2 separate regions of the Homo sapiens genome follow, and region 1 is linked to region 2. The links come from fine-mapping of genetic effects on gene expression. Tissue or cell type: whole blood. Region 2 holds a variant in brackets; the other region holds the start of a gene. All regions are shown on one strand. Distances are between the middles of the regions.

Region 1 (8,185 bases), 28 kb after region 2:
TCAAATGACCAAGACCCAGGAGGCCCAGGCTAAACTAATTTAGCCCTAATTCTACAAGCACAGCGGTGAACAGAAGATCTTTAAATCTTGTGGACTCAAATATCTCTTCAGAATATTAATATTCACACAGCATGCAGCAGACTGCCTATACCTTGGCAATGCTAATGACATTGACATGTCTACCTCCCTGAGCCCAGATCACCATAAAACCAAGCCTAAACTAAAAGTGAGCAACCAAAAAACCCCCAGATTTTTATATAAGTCATGGGACGAATAAAATGATTTAACAATTGAGCCATATTTTTAAAAATACTTGCAAAATATGCATATAGATAAGTGCTAGTCCCTTCACTTAACAAACTTAAAAGTCCCATGCCAAAAACTTCTAAGAATCATTTCCAAGTAAATACAGAGAGAATAGGGAAGTGCCCTAAACATATTTTTGGAATTCAGTTCTTTTCTGATCAACTCTAGCTTGTCGGAATAAAAGAACGTAAAAAAGTATAAGAAGAATACATTTCTTTATAAGAATAATACAATACCTTTGAATACAATTCTTCTTATACTTACTCTATAATTGTACTTACTCTACAGTTTTCTGCAAACGTACTTACTCTACAATTTTCATCATCTAAAATCAACCAGCAAACAGTACCTGCTTACTGTGGGTGCTTTTCAACGTTACCTGTTAAAAAAAAACGTTGAGGTCTAATTTACATTTACTTCTTTTAATAAATATAAAGCTAAGGATCATTGGAATGAATGCATTTTTGAACAATTTTTCAACATAATTGTTGGAAAAATCACATTAAGTGTATAGTTTATTCTAACTTCTATTCATTTTCCAGCCTACTGATGACAAAAAGGCTTGAATCTGAAACTTTTCTTTCTACACTCTGAGAAGTATTTTACCTTTACGGAGCAGACTTTGGGCTCAGTAGAAACAAAGGATTCATTCAATGTAGAATTATTATCATCATTTTACGGGTTAGAAAAGGAAGTAAAGTGATGACCACATAGCCACTCAGCAGCATGCTCAAGTCCAAACCCTGGAACCTTGTCCATAGCCCCTAGTCTCACCATCCATGTTGCCTCCGTGTGTGGGATAAAAGACAATGCAAAAGTTAAAACACTCGCACACACAGGACCCAATTAAATATAATTTTAACGCCAATCTGAGAAAAATGACTTATTAGCTGTGTGATTTTGAGCAATGCTCTTAACCTCCCCCATGAAGGATGGTGTGAGAACGAACAGAATTGTAGCACGTGTATCAGTCTGGTACACAATGTCCTATGAAGGTTAGCTTTATTATCACCATCATTATTATTGCAGAAAGACTTTCAGTTCAGAATAAGACAGCACAGTTACAGAGACCTGGTTTTATTTTCCAGCTTCTTAACTGAGTCATCTTTCAGCTCCTTTTAATTAAAAAGAAAAAACAATCAGAGATCTAATTGGGTATCAGGAAGATACACAATATGACTAACAGGCACTAATATTACTACACTTATAGTCTCTGGAAGGCTGGACATACTTATCCAAGAACTGCCTAAATTTTTACAATGACACACCATGCTAAATCTTCCATATTAGAAATTCCATATTTCTCTCCATACTAGAAATAATCGTTCCATATTAGAAATAAGAACGTAGATTTGGTAACAAGGGAAACTATTCAAATTTGCCAGTGCTATTATTTGTGTGCCTTCAGATGGGTGGGGAAAAAATGTGTCAGCAAGCAATGCAGCCTTTCTTTAGTTTTTTACTTATCCTCTAAAGATCATGCAAAAAAAAAAAAAAACCAACAAACGTTTACTCTTGGATGTTTAACCTTGGCTCCGACAGAATGTTCCTTGTATCAAAAAACAAGAACTCAGCCAACAATGTTTTTGTTGTTAAACGGTTGCATGAAGACTATGTCCAGTCAAATCTAACCCCTCACCCCGCTCCAAGGCTATGACCCTCAATTTTCATCAAAGTTCCTACCATCTCCCACTTTGTAAAGGCCCTAAAGAAGTTAATGAAGAAGGCAAAGTTCCTGTCCTCTGCTGTCACTCAGTAATGAGCAGTTTCATGTGGCAGTGCAGAAACTGGGGTTTGAGAAACAGAGGTGTCCTGACACTCTGGACCGGTAATCACGAAAACCCCAGCACTGCCATAAAGATGCTGTCTTAACTCGGCTCCAAACAAAGTTCTGTCGGCGGCCGGCAGTGTTTCAGTGGGCAGCAATGTGGTGATACCTTCACAGGATACTTTATAGGCTTCAAAACACTTCCCTCCCTCCAGGCCATTAACCTTCTAAACCACACAGTGGGGTATGGCTGGAGTATTCTCCCCCTGAGGCAAGGGAACTGAAGTTCAAGAAGGTTTCTTGACTTGCCAAGATCTCCCCGCTACTTTGGCTTTAAGAAACTGGGTCTAAGAAACTCAAGCTTACGGATTCTCTGTTCTCTGCGCGCTCCCACCACATCTTCAATTCAAAGATCCTTCCAAATTCCACAGAAATAACCCAGTAAGGGCAGCTCTTGAGTATACCTTTTCCTTTGAGTCTTAATTTTCACTCAAGGCGAAATAACCCCTCCTCTGAAAGTTCTCCACGTTTTCCAAGCGGACAGCATCAAGTTCGCAGGGGATCTGTATCAGTCTCAGCAGGTGGACTTCACAAGGGGCGGGTTGGGGGAACGCCCGCCTGACCGTGTCCGGCGTGGCGGGGGGTTGGGGGCGAGAAGAGTGGGGGTTGCTATGTAGGGCGCCCGGACCAAATAACACGCCGCGATTTCACACTCCAGCCTAGCTCAGTTATGTAGCCAAATGTTTTTCTGTCACCACATATCCACGACTTTGGCTGTGTTGAGGACGAAAACAGAGAAAAGACACTGATCCCAGAACACTGCGCCTGGGAGGACGCAGGGCGCAGGCTTTGTAGTCTCTGAGAATCGCCCTGCGTAAAAGTGTCCTGAGGTCCCGCTTCTGCGCCCTTCCCGGCCCAAGCCGAACACAGGGTCAACCTCACTCTACAAAGTCAACCGGATAGAAATCCGCCACCCCGCGAGGAGCCCCTTCCTACTGTCTCCAAGGGGTCCCCGACACTGCTCTGAGCGACCCTAAGATACCTGGGTGTCTCTGCTGGGCACAAACCTCTCTGGCGCCACTTCCACCATCCAACCTCTCCCGCGGCCCTCCCTTCCCTTTCTCCAACCACCCTCTCCACCCCGCGCCGCTCCCATCTCGCCCCCGGCCCCGCCAGCCTCACCCAGCCAAACCCGAGCGGTGGAACGCTGCGCTGGGTAAACGCCGCGCGTCGGGTCCTCCCTCGCGCGGCTCCGGGCAGCGTTCCGTGGCCACCGCGCTCCCGGTAACAGCAGAAAGGGGAGGGAGGAGAGCTACCGAGGAGGGGACAGCGACGCCCCGACGCCGCCACGCCCCCCGCCTCCCACACGGGGGCCACCGTAGCTCTCTAGAAGCTCCTCAGGGAAGCAAAGCGCCGTTCCCGCCGCAGGCACCGAGACGTCGCCCAGATGGAAGAAACTCTGGAGATGCGCGCTCCTACACCGGTGCCGCGGCGCCCGGGCCCAGCACCACGCACCTATGCGCGCCTCTGCCGGTCCTCCTAGAAATCCCGCCCTGCCTACCCGCGGCGCGAGACGCAACGACGCTTTCAGGGGTCAAAGACCTGGCAGAAATGACTTCCCAACCCCAGATGCCCCCAGCAGCAGTATTTAGCAGTCATACAATTGCCTGAAATGAAGAATGAGTAATCTGGATGAGTCGGCCCTGAAATCGACCTGCAACTTACCCGGAACGTGAGCTGTCTCTCTCTGACCTCTGCTGGCTGCTTCACCTGGAGTCTGAGTCCGACTCATGTAGCACTTCACTGTCCGCGTTAGTTTAGCCTTCACTGTCAGCAACTCGTCACCTTGTCCTCTTGCAGCGAAGGTTTGGAATCCCATCACGGGTGTGCAGTGGTTAGTCCTGAGATCATGGTGGTGCTAGGAGAACCTGCCAACCAATACAGAAAGTTGTCACGAATAGAAACCTAAGCTCTGGCCGGGTGCGGTGGTTCAAGCCTGTGATCCCAGCACCTACTTTGGGAGGCCAAGTCGGATGGATCACTTGAGGTTAGGAGTTCGAGACCAGCCTGGCCAACATGGTGAAAGCCTGTCTCTACTAAAAATATAAAAATTAGCCGAGCGTGGTGGCGGGTGCCTGTTATGCCGGCTACTAGGGAGGCTGAAGCAGGAGCAACCCGGGAGGCGGAGGTTGCAGTAAGCCGAGATCGCGCCATTGCACTCCAGCCTGGGCGACAGAGCAAGACTGTCAAAAAAAAAAAAAAAAAAAAACAGAAAGGAGAAGAAGGGAAGGAGGGAGGGAGGGAGGAAGGCAGGCAGGCAGGCAGGAAGGAACCCAAGGGAGGGAGGGAGGGAAGAAGGAAGGAAGGAAGGAAGGAACCTAAGCCAAGGAAGGAAGGAAGGAAGGAAAGCAAAGAAAGGAAGGAAGGAAGGGCGAAGGAAGGAAGGAATCTAAGCCAAGGAAGGAAGGAACCTAAGCCCAGGAAGGAAGGAAAGAAGGAAGGAAGGAAGGTAGAAGGAAGGAAGGAACCAAAGCCAAGGAAGGAAGGAAGGAAAGAAAAGTAGAAAGGAAGGAAGGAAGGAAGGAACCTAAGTCCCAGAAGGAAGGGAGGGAGGGATGGAGGAAGGAAGGAAGCTAAGCTCTCTCTCGCGGTGCCCTGACTTCTCCCGGGGAAGGACCTCTGAGCTGCCTGCACTGGTAATGACACGTAGGTGAACCGGTCCTGGCTTTCTTAGAAGATTCCCTGCTGCATAAAACCAAATCCCGTTGCACTTTCCTGGGTTCCTTGGCTTTGTCCTTTGTCATTTCCAGGATGGAGCAGAGGCACTGGTAATTTGGCTTTTACTTGCCTGGTACCTCTGGCATGGAGTGGCTAAACGGTGGCACCATGTACTAGTTGCTGCCATCTTCAGATAAAATATTGAATCAATATGACAAAAGTCAGATGAATACTAGCTGCCAATTACCCTGCTTCCCTTGGGGGCAGCCTGTTTGGAGCATAGACCAGCTTTGACCTGCAAGAACTCTGGATATTTGGAATATTTAAAATTCCAAATACAGTATCCCAGGAATTCAGGTCAGCTGAAGGCCGATTGGGAAGGGCTTACCTTAAATGAATCAGAAAGAAAAAGGTGTGGGTGTGTGCTAACATTTTTTGAGTATCGGCTATGTGCCAGGTACTTTTTCTTATTATTTTAAGCAAGTCTGTGAACATCCCTGAGAATAACAAATCATTTGTTCCCATTTCGCAAGGGGGAAATCTATGACTTAGGTTCAAATAACTTGCCCAAGGTCACAGAGCTAATAGGTAGCACAGTTAGGCTTTGAAGGCAGGTGTATCTGACACCAAACCCTATGTCCAATTTCCACCATACTACCAGCAAGATGGAAGAATAATGAAATAAAGGGACCAGGCAAGAGCCAGTTTCAGGAATACTTAAAGGGAAAGAGGAGTCAGGAGGAACTTAGAGAAAGAATCTTGAAACAAGAGGAAATGTCATGCCAGGTAAATCAGTGAGTCAAAAACCAGAAACAGCTGTACTAGTTGGCAGACTGGACATAGTCCAAGGCAAGAAAATCGTTTTTGTAGGGAGATTAGGATATTTTGGACCAAGATTGTGGGCTTTAGTCATCCCCTCTGAAGCCACTCTGAAATCACCTTTCTCAAAACTGCCATAAGGCAGGCCTAGGCACTATCACGTGGACATCCTACTAACTCTGAGTATAGACCTTCTACATCTCGTCACAGACGCAGGAGGTTCACATTCTGAAAGAGCATCTCTAGGACTAAGGAGAAACATTCAAGGACAGGTTTTTCAAGTTAGGAATGCTCACTGGAAATCTGCTCTGTCCCCTCTGGGATCTGGAAGTAGAATTTCCCAAGCACTAAATGCTGAGGCGTGGACTTTCCAAGAATTTCCTGATTGGTTAATTCTGAGAATGTCACTGATCATTACAGACGGATCACCATGCAGGAAAAGGAGAGGCTGGTTTGGGTTTTTTCATGGGGAAGGTGAACTTCCAGATCACAGTGCCCTCCAAGACACAGGGCTTGAAAGTCATGAGTGTCAGGGACAACTCACTGTGTCAGCTAGCCCAGCCGGGCTCATGCCCAGCACCCATTGATCACACACAAAGCTCCATTGTGGCCAGGATAGCCTCATAAAAGACCGAAAGCCTAGCAGCTGCCTGCCAAAACCCAGCCAGGCTTCACAAGAAGTGATTTGTGCTGTGAGCAGAGCTTTGACCCCAGTTTTGAACTCAGCTGACAGTCAGCAAAGGGGAAACCAGTCTCTGTACAAAACAGGAAGGAAATGAGATGAAATGAACTGCATTATAAGCTACCAGAGGGTGCCTAATGGCATCTTCACCACATAGAAGTCCCAGGAAGAAAGACTGATGATTTTGCATGGGAGAGAAGCCCAGACAAGCACCAGGGAAGGAAAGAACCGAGGAAAGCTGCATTTGGCTTGGCTGTTTCTCTTCCTCCTTGCCTGACTTAACAGCCACTGTCTGCAAAAGGACACATCTGTGTGAACCCACTTGCATGAGGAGCCTAGAAGAGACAAATTCATAGAGACAGAAAGTAGAACAGAAGTTGGCAGGGCCTGGCAGGATGGGGAATACAGAGTTATTGCTTGATGGACACAGATTTTCTGTCTGGTTGATGAAAAAGTTCTGGAGAGAGATTGTAGTGATAGTTGCACAATGCTGTAAATGTACTTAATGCCACTGAATTGTACACTGAAAAATGGTTATGATAATACATTTTGTTATATTTTACCACAAATATTTATGTGTATGGTGTATGTATATATGTATATATTATTTATATATTTTATATATACATATATATGTAAAAAATATAAATGTATTATCATGATGTAATACTTCTTTGGAGTAAAAGCCCAGGTGAAAGCAATCAGCTGACAGGGCCCCTACATCTGGAAATTCTTCACTTGAATTTTTGTTCATTTCTCTTTTTAATTTTTATTTATTTATTTTTGAGATGGAGTCTCACTCTGTCACCCAGGCTGGAGTGCAGTGGCATGATCTCGGCTCAGTGCAACCTCTACCTCCCAGGTTCAAGCAATTCCTGTGCCTCAGCCTCCCAACTAGCTAGGATTACAGGCATGCACCACCACACCCAGCTAATTTTTGTATTTGTAGTAGAGATGGGGTTTCACCATGTTGGCCAGGCTGGTCTCGAACTCCTGACCACAGGTGATCTGCCTGCCTTGGTCTCCCAAAGTGCTGGGATTACAGGTGTGAGCCACCACACCCAGCCTTTTTGCTTTTAATTTTTTTTTTTTGAGACAGGTTCTTGCTCTGTTGCCCAGCCTGAGTGCAGTGGCATGATCATGACTCACTGCAGCCTCAACCTCCCAGGCTCAGGTGATCCTCCCACCTCAGCCTCCCTAATAATTGGGACTACAGGCAAACAGCACCACACCCAGCTAAATTTTTTAAGTTATTTGTAGAGATGAGGGTTTCCCTATGTTTCTCAGGCTGGTCTTGAACTCCTGGGCTCAAACAATCCTCCCACCTTGGCCTCCCAGAGTGCTGGGATTACAGGCATGAACCACTACGCCTGGCTCTATGAATGTTAATAAATCTTTGCCAGGCATGGTGGCTCACACCTGTAATCCAAGCACTTTGGGAGGTGGAGGTGGGTGGATCTCTTGAGGTCAGGAGTTCCAGACCAGCCTGGCCAACATGGTGAAACTCCACCTCTACTAAAATACAAAAATTAGCTGGGCATGGTGGCAGATGCCTGTAATCCCAGCTACTTGGTAGGCTGAGGCAGGAGAATCGCTTGAACCCGGGAGGCAGAGGTTGCAGTGAGCCAGGATAGTGCCACTACACTCCAGCCTGAGCAACAGAGCAAGACTCTGTCTCAAAATAATCAAATAAATAAATAAATCTTAATTTATTTTTCTTTCCATTTAGGGGTGCCCAGGGCCCAGCTTTTGGGTTGTTGCAGCTCCTTATTCAGAAGGAAGAGTAGTTCTGCCATTTTACTCTCTGATCCAGCTGGTGTTAAGTAGCTGGGGGTTTGTGGTGGCATAGTCAGAGATGTGGCCCTAAAAGGGACTCTTTACCTTTGAGGACT
Region 2 (8,185 bases):
GTTGGCCAGGCTGGTCTCAAACTCCTGACCTCAGGTGATCCACCCACCTTAGCCTCCCAAAGTGCTGGGATTACAGGTGGGAGACACCGTGCCTGGCCCAGGAAAGCCTAATCTTCTAGGCCTCAGTTGGCCCAGGAATGATCCTCTCAGGCTACCTCCTCAAACTCTCAGAGAAGTTTGGCTAGCTCCTTGTTAAGCCATTCCTTTACTCAACAAATATCTTTTGAAGACCTACTATGTGCCAGGCACTCTTCTAGAAGCTGGAAATAAAGTAATAAATACAACAGACAACACATGTGGCCTCACAGAACTTATAATCTAGTGTTGAAGACAGATAATAATAAGACATATTAGTAAAATATAAGAGACTATTTTAGAAAGACTGTGCTAAGAATACAAAATAAGAAGGAACTTCTAAGAAAATATTGTGCAAGAAAATAAAGAAAAAAAATAAGGATGGGTAATATAAAGCGTTCATGGGATTGTCTGTGGCCAGCAGTGGGGCAAGACAGGTATTTTAGATAGGGCAGCAAGGGAAGACCTCGTGACTTTGGAGTGAAAATGTGAAAGAAGCAAAGGAATTAGTCATGGGGGTGTCTGCAGAGAGAGCATTTGGGGGAGAGAAAACCACAAACGCAAATATGTCAGAAGTGAGCCTGGCATTTTCAAGGGGCAGCAGGAGGCCACGTGGCTGGAGCTGATGCCCAACAGGGAGAGAACTAGGAGGCTGGTCCTGGTGTCCTCGGTCCTAGTTGATCACACAGCCTTGTCAGTCATGATGGACTCCTCATGAAAAGGAGGGCAACTTCTCTGAAGCTCTTATAACAACTTCTCATCAAAGGCATCTCTCACACAAGCAATGCGCTGCCCTACTTTGCTATTCTGGACCTTGTCATCACATCATAAGCAGGCGATCCATTATCCGTACTTACTAGGCTCTACTGGAGTTCCACAGCCGGCACAGAAAAAATTCTGGGCTGCCACCACAAGGTCCCTCCTGAATACGAAAAATAATACTAGTTACATTTCAGAGAAGGCCAATGGCACATTTTTCACTAATTAGAAAAGAAATTGCCATCGTGATACTTTTCTAACTAAGGGCCTTAACTTTGTCACTTTTCATTTGGGAAAGAAATAGATTTATTCAATACAATTTTCTAGTTGAAATCCCTGGGTCTTTTAAAGCTATGACTAATTTTTTTTATTTTTCATTTTTTTTCCTGAGACAGGGTCTTGCTCTGTCACGCAGGCTGGAGGGCACTGGCATGATCATAGTTCACTACTGCCTCAAACTCCTCGGCTCAGCTCAAGCAATCCTCAGCCTCCTGTGTAGGTAGCTAGGACTACATGTACACGCCACCATGCCCAGCTAGCTTTTTTTGGCTTTATTTACTTTTTTTTTTTTTTTTGGTAGAGATAGGGTCTCTCTATGTTGCCCACACTGGTTTCGAACTCCTGGCCTCAAGTCATCCCCCTACTTCGGCCTCCCAAAGTGCTGGAATTACAGGCATGAGCCGCCGTGCCCAGCCTTAAAGCTACATCTCTTTAAAAGCTTCTGCTAGGCTGGGCACGGTGGCTCACGCCTGTAATCCCAGCACTTTGGGAGGCTGAGGCAGGCGGATCACGAGGTCAGGAGATGGAGACCATCCTGGCCAAACCCTGTCTCTACTAAAAATACAAAAAATTAGCCGGGCGTGGTGGTGGACACCTGTGGTCCCAGCTACTTCGGAGGCTGAGGCAGGAGAATGGCGTGAACCCGGGAGACGGAGCTTGCAGTGAGCCAAGATCGCGCCACTGCACTCCAGCCTGGGCGATAGAGTGAGACTCCGTCTCAAAAAAAAAAAAAAAAAAAAGCTTCTGCTAAAACCAAAGCAGAAGTCAGCGTCACTGATAACTCCAAGGGGTTTTTAGGGAGGTCTCGATGCCCGTGTACAGGGTTCCAGCTCCAGAGAGAACCAGAGACATGTTATACAAGGAAGACAGCTCAGGGAGGCCATACACCAAAAGATGATGCACTTGGGAAATTCACAAATGGATCTAAAGAAATTTAGACGAATAAGAGGTAACGTAAGACAAAGAAATCAAATCATTTCTGGTAAGAGATATTCCATTCCATTGAGGAATTTTCTTTCTTTTTTTTTTTTTTTTGAGATGGAGTCTTATTCTGTTGCCCAGGCTGGAGTGCAGTGGTGCAATCTCAGCTCACTGCAACCTTCACCTCCCAGGTTCAAGCAGTTCTCCTGCCTCAGCCTCCCAAGTAGCTAGGACCACAGGCATGCACCACCATGCCCGGCTAATTTTTGTATTTTTAGTAGAGACAGGGTTCTGCCATGTTAGCCAGGCTGGTCTTGAACTCCTGACCTCAGGTGATCCCGCCCACCTCGGCCTCCCAAAGTGCTGAGATTACAGGCATTGGCCACTGTGCCCGGCCTGAGGGATTTTCTATTGAACTGTTTATCCCATAGTTTTACATGTGACTTGGAAATACCAAGGAAATTGTAAAATTTGTTTACAGTTCAGGATCAGCAAAAGATGGCCAAGGTAAAAATATGCTAAATCTCTGCCCAGGTGCCATAGTGAGGACCTAGGAAACCCCTAAAGAAAAGATACCCCAGGCTAAGGAAAGCAACCTCTCACGATGCCTAGACAGGGAGTTCTGCCCAAGCAGCCCCACAGACTTTCTTGGCATTCTCTCAAAAAAAGAAAAACAAAAGAAAGATCTAGTCTATAAGGCACCTCCGTGGGGCAGAGTCAACCTCTCTCCAGTCCCTTGGGCACAGTCAACAACCCTCACCGGTCCCTTTGTAATGCTTGGCAGTTTGCACACCAAATTGAATACAAACCAAGAGGGATGGAAAAATTATACTTGGTTAAAATGTTTTGTGTATAATCTTTGATCATAATCTGTCCTATAGTCTCGGAACAAATTACAATTAAACTATTACTTTAAATTTATAGGTTTATTTCCTTTTTTGCATAATCTTAGTTGTTTTGTCTTTTAGAACTTTTGTTACTTCTTAGAGAACAAACATATTTTTATTTACATTTTGTTACATTTCTTTTGTTGGTTTTGAGATCGAGTCTCGCTCTGTCACCCAAGCTGGAGTGCACTGGTGCAATCTCAGCTCACTGCAACCTCTGCCTCCTGGGTTAAAGCAATTCTTGCTCCTCAGCCTCCCGAGTAGCTGGGATTAGAGGGCTGCACCCACCACACCTAGTTTATTTTTGTATTTTTAGTAGAGAGAGGGTTTCACCATGTTGCCCAGGCTGACCCCAAACTCCTGACATCAGGTGATCCCTGACCCCAGCCTAGGCCTC[C/A]CAAAGTGCTGGGATTATAGACAGGTGTGAGCCACCGTACCCGGCCTCTGTAACATTTCTTAACTATAAGTGCTTTCCCTAAGATTAAATGTTCCTTTTTTAGAAGTTTATTCATTCATTTTTATTTCACACTGATTGTTCTGGAAGATAAAGTGGTCCAGTCTTTTAAAATTATCATAGGCTGAGCGAGGTGGCTCACACCTGTAATCCCAGCACTTTGGGAGGCTGAGGTGGGCAGATCACTTGAGCCCAGGAGTCCAACACCAGCCTGGGCAACATGGTGAAACCCCATCTCTAATTTTTTTAAAAAGGAAACACATTTTAAAAAATTATTGTATATAATTTTTAAGTTTTGATATTAGCCACTTTTAAAAATCCCCTTTAAGCCTATTTAATTTTCAGTTGCTACGCAATATTGACAATTAGGGTTGCATAGCTGAATTCTCAACTTGTCAAAACTTACAGAGCCCCCAAAAGTCCATGGTAAACAAGAGGAAAAAAAAAAAAAACCTAAGCCAGAAAATACAGCCAACTTTCCTTTCCCTAAAACAAATTTTCCTGTGTTCTTTAGCATATGTATTTTTTTCACCTACTGCCATAGAGTCAGGTGGGATCTGTCACAATGTGATTTAAATGGATTGGAGGCCCAAGCAACAGCCCATACTTACTTGAGTGGTGGATGAATATTAAATATGATTTGAAATCTAGGAGGAGCCCAGTCTTCAGTCCCTCTGATCCTAGACTTAAATTTAATTTCCTGTACTACATTCATACTGGATTCAAAGTCTTTTCGGACACACTCTTCATTTACGACCTGCATAAGACATAAAATGATTTAGGAACAACTTAAGCATATTTCAAAGAATTTAAATTAAAGAAACATCTAAATGTATTTCCAACATTAAAATTTACCATGAAAAATTAACAGTGCTTTTAACTGAACTAAAGGGCATACCAAGAGCCCTCCACATCTCTAAAGCCATCTGCAAGAGAATTGCTTTAAACACCACCCAGATGAGATCACTTTTCTTAGTATTTTTAGTTCATTTATTTCCAGACTTCAAATTTACTGTAAGTAGGTCATTTTGACCTGGAATGCATTTATGAATAGCAGAAGCCTCACCCCTCTTAGTCAACAGACTGACAAATGCTACCAATCAGAACCCCTATCATTATTAGTCTTCCCCAGAAACAGCTCTATTAAGACCTTTCCCCTTGCTTACAAATGTTCAGTGCCTCCCCGCTGAACCACTGGACTTTCCTACTGTCATTTAAAATCCAAACTTCTCAGCTGGGTGCAGTGGCTCATGCTTGTTTTCCTAGCACTTTGGGAGGCCGAGGTGGGTGGATCACTTGAGGTCAGGAGTTTGAGACCAGCCTGGCCAACATAGTGAAACCCTGTCTCTACTAAAAGTACAAAAGTTAGCCAGAAATTGCTTGAACCCAGGAGGTGGAGGTTGCAGTGAGTCGAGCTTGTGCCACTGCACTCCACCCTGGGCAACAGAGTGAGACTCCATCTTAAAAAATAAATAAAATAAAATAAAATAAAATCCAAACTTCTCAAATTAGCATTCTACATCCTCCACAATTTGGCTACTATCATTCAAACCTTATTTCCATAAAGAACAACCTCTCAGACACAAATACTCACAAACGGGTATTATCCAACCGCAGCGAATCACTCTGCTCAACGGCATAGCATGCCCCTCCACTTTTGCTGCAGCTCCCCTTTGCCAAGAACGTCCTCCCCCAACCTTTCTACCTGCCACAGTTCTGGCCAGCCCAATACTTAGCTCAAGTTCTGAAATCTGCAGTCAGCCTTCCTAAGTTCCCCTGGTAAAATTAAACACTCCTTCCTCTGCACTTCGAGGGCATTTTCCCTACCCCTGTTTTAGCCTTTGTCATAATGTTCTCTACCCTCAGAAGGCTGCTTGCTCTCTGACAGCAGTGAGCAGTGTGTTCCATGAGGGAACCAACATGTACTTTCCAATGAGGCAGCCTGGGCATGACTCCTGCTTCACAGCTGACCAGCCCTGCTGGGAGGCTGGGCCCACCACTTAAAAATAAAAATAAGGACAGCCTCTACCTAACAGGATACTTATGAGGATTAAAATGTGGACTGCTGGCCGGGCACGGTGGCTCAGGCCTATAATCCTAGCACTTTGAGAGGCCAAGGTGGGCAGATCACTTGAGGTCAGGAGTTGGAAACCAGCTGGCCAGCATGGTGAAACCCTGTCTCTACTAAAAATACAAAAAAGTTAGCTGGGCGTGGTGGCGTGCGCCTGTAGTCCCAGCTACTTGGGAGGCTGAGGCAGGAGAATCGCTTGAACCCAGGAAGCGGAGGTTGCAGTGAGCTGAGATTGCGCCACTGCACTCCAGCCTGGGTGACAGAGCAAGAATCCGTCTCAAAAAAATTAATAAATAAAATAAAATAATGTGGACTGCTGAGCACAGTCTCTGGTACACAATAAGTACTCAACACATGCCAGTTTCCTCATTCATTTTGAGTCTCCCCTAATATCCAGTGACCATACAAGGAAAGACAAATGTTTAAAGTGAACAGGGCAGGCAAAATGAGGATTTAGGAACTTTCAATTCAAGGTCAATTTTTTTTGATACTTACTATCGAGCCAGCTGCACTCAGGGAACCTGCCAGCTGAGAATTAACTACTGACAGTATCCAGCACTTCTGGAACACGCGGTACAGCTCTTTGGCTAATAGTTCTGCAGAATTGAAGTCTGGCTCATAAGTGACACTGAAATGTAAGAGATGCAAATACTGGAAAACTATATTCATGAGGAGTATGTTCAGGGTCTTCCTGAGGTTTTCAACTGTTCTTCCCAGCCCCCAAAACTCAGAAGAGGCTGTCATATGAGATGACGCATGAATCACTCACCAGGCATCTTACTCAACATGGCTCCTGCATGTTCAATAAATAAAGCATCTTTTATTTACTGAGGGCGCTAAGACTTAGAGGTGTGGTGAAAGAGCACTGGCTTTAGAGTCAGAAGACCTGCATTCAAGCCCTACTTCTACCTCACAGCCTTCGTGTCCCGAAGCACATCCTATATATGAGTCTCAATTTTTATGTCTATAAAATGAGGTTTAAAAATACATAAATATATGGTCGGGCATGGTGGCTCACACCTGTAATCCCAGAATTTTGGGAGGCTGAGGCAGGCGGATCACCTGAGGTCAGGAGTTCAAGACCAGCCTGGTCAACATAGTGAAACCCCATCTCTACTAAAAATACAAAAAAAAAAAAAAAATTAACCAGGTGTGGTGGCAGGTGCCTATAATCCCAGCTATTCAGGAGGCTGAGGCAGGAGAATTGCTTGAACCCAGGAGGCGGAGGTTGCAGTGAGCCGAGATTGGGCCATTGCACTCTACCCTGGGTGACAAGAGCAAAACTCGGTCTCAAAAACAACAACAACAAAAACATAAATATACACACACATGCATACATAAAATTCACCCAACCTGTTTAACTGAAATGAGGATTAAATGAAAATGCATACAAAAGCCTTTTATATATTGTAAAACACTATAGAAACTTTGGGGGTGATTGTTTCATTTCTAGGTGATACTCTCCTAGATTCATGGGAACAAATCACTGGAACTAGCTAAAGTGGGCCCAGAATGTCAGAGGCCTAGGTTTCACACTGCCTCAGAGGTGACAGCCCAAGGGTCTATGTGCACTGTGCACAGAAGACAGATACCTCTTAGAGGAGCTGCAGGAACAGCTACAGGTTTCTGTGATATCATTAAAATCTCCAAGCTCTGTGGGAAAATAAAAGAAAGAGTGGTGAGGTCTTTTAGTCTGTTTCATTTAATCGCAGTCCATTTTATAAGAACACTAAAATCACTCCCTGCATCTCAGAAAGAGCAAATTATTCAGCATCTCCATGCTTCAGGTTCTGAGAAATGGACAGAACAGATAATGAGAGGACAGATAATGATCAAAGATGGGATTTCATCTGAAATTTCACCAAAATATAACTGAGAGGCCAAAGAGATATCCGACCATAATGAATATCTGCTTTTTCATTCAACTCTACAAGTGAGATGAGAGATTAGCTATCCAGACATTTGAAACAAGAACATCATATATATATATATAGATATATATATATATATATATATATATATATATATATCAGGGCCATAATCTGATTTTGGAAGAAGTTGGTTTGAATGCCACTGTAACGTAATGTTGTGTGTGATGCATGTTAGTGTGTGTATGCGGATGGGATTGGGGAGGCAGCCAGTCACATCCAAACAGTTTCCAAATCTTACCTAAAATAACAAATTCATCAACATCGCATTTGCAAATCTCTTTCACATCATGGTAAGTACGTGTTTCAGTCACTGGGCTGACCTGTAACACAGCACAACCTAGACAAAGAAAGGAAGGAGGTTTTTACCAATAAGAAGAAAAAGAAAAACTGTACAACCTGCAACACCCAACTAAATAGAAATTGGGAAATGAAGAGGGCTAAAAGTTTAAGAGAATTAAACATTTCAACTTAAAGAATTAAAAAACTGGGGAACTATTTGTGTGTTCTTTTTGCACTCACTATGATTAAGTGCCTGTAGTCCCAGCTATTCGGAAGGCTTTCATCACAAAGAAGCTATCTGCAGTCCATCCAATGTTTTAAAATATTGAAACACTGAAAGCATCTAAACGTTTAATAATAGGAAATTGATTTTGCAAATCACACGATTAAATACTATCATTTAAAAATGTAAATCTGCCAGGGGCAGGGGCGTGCACTTGTAGTCCCAGCTACTCAGGAGGCTGAGGTAGGAGAATCACTTGAGCCCAGGAGTTCAAGTCCAGCCTGGGCAACATGGCAGAACCCCCGT

The links. PIP is the estimated chance that this variant, and not a neighbour inherited with it, causes the effect.
Region 1: it holds the start of RUBCNL, and the variant in region 2 is fine-mapped to the expression of RUBCNL in whole blood (TOPMed, PIP above 0.99).

Annotation. Positions count from the first base shown.
Region 1 is chr13:46,383,878-46,392,062 of GRCh38, forward strand. It overlaps RUBCNL (rubicon like autophagy enhancer), which reads right to left and starts at 3,375. Exons shown (of 15, transcript NM_025113.5): 1 at 3,257-3,375. RefSeq lists enhancers at 3,142-3,231, 3,612-3,891, 3,922-4,021, 4,042-4,151, 5,915-6,054 and 1 more.
Region 2 is chr13:46,355,500-46,363,684 of GRCh38, forward strand. It overlaps RUBCNL (rubicon like autophagy enhancer), which reads right to left. Exons shown (of 15, transcript NM_025113.5): 6 at 7,616-7,714; 7 at 7,039-7,099; 8 at 5,942-6,074; 9 at 3,987-4,132; 10 at 933-997. Among named protein-coding and RNA genes, the nearest start is that of RUBCNL, 28 kb to the right of the region's middle. The variant C/A (reference allele first, on the strand shown) is at 3,319.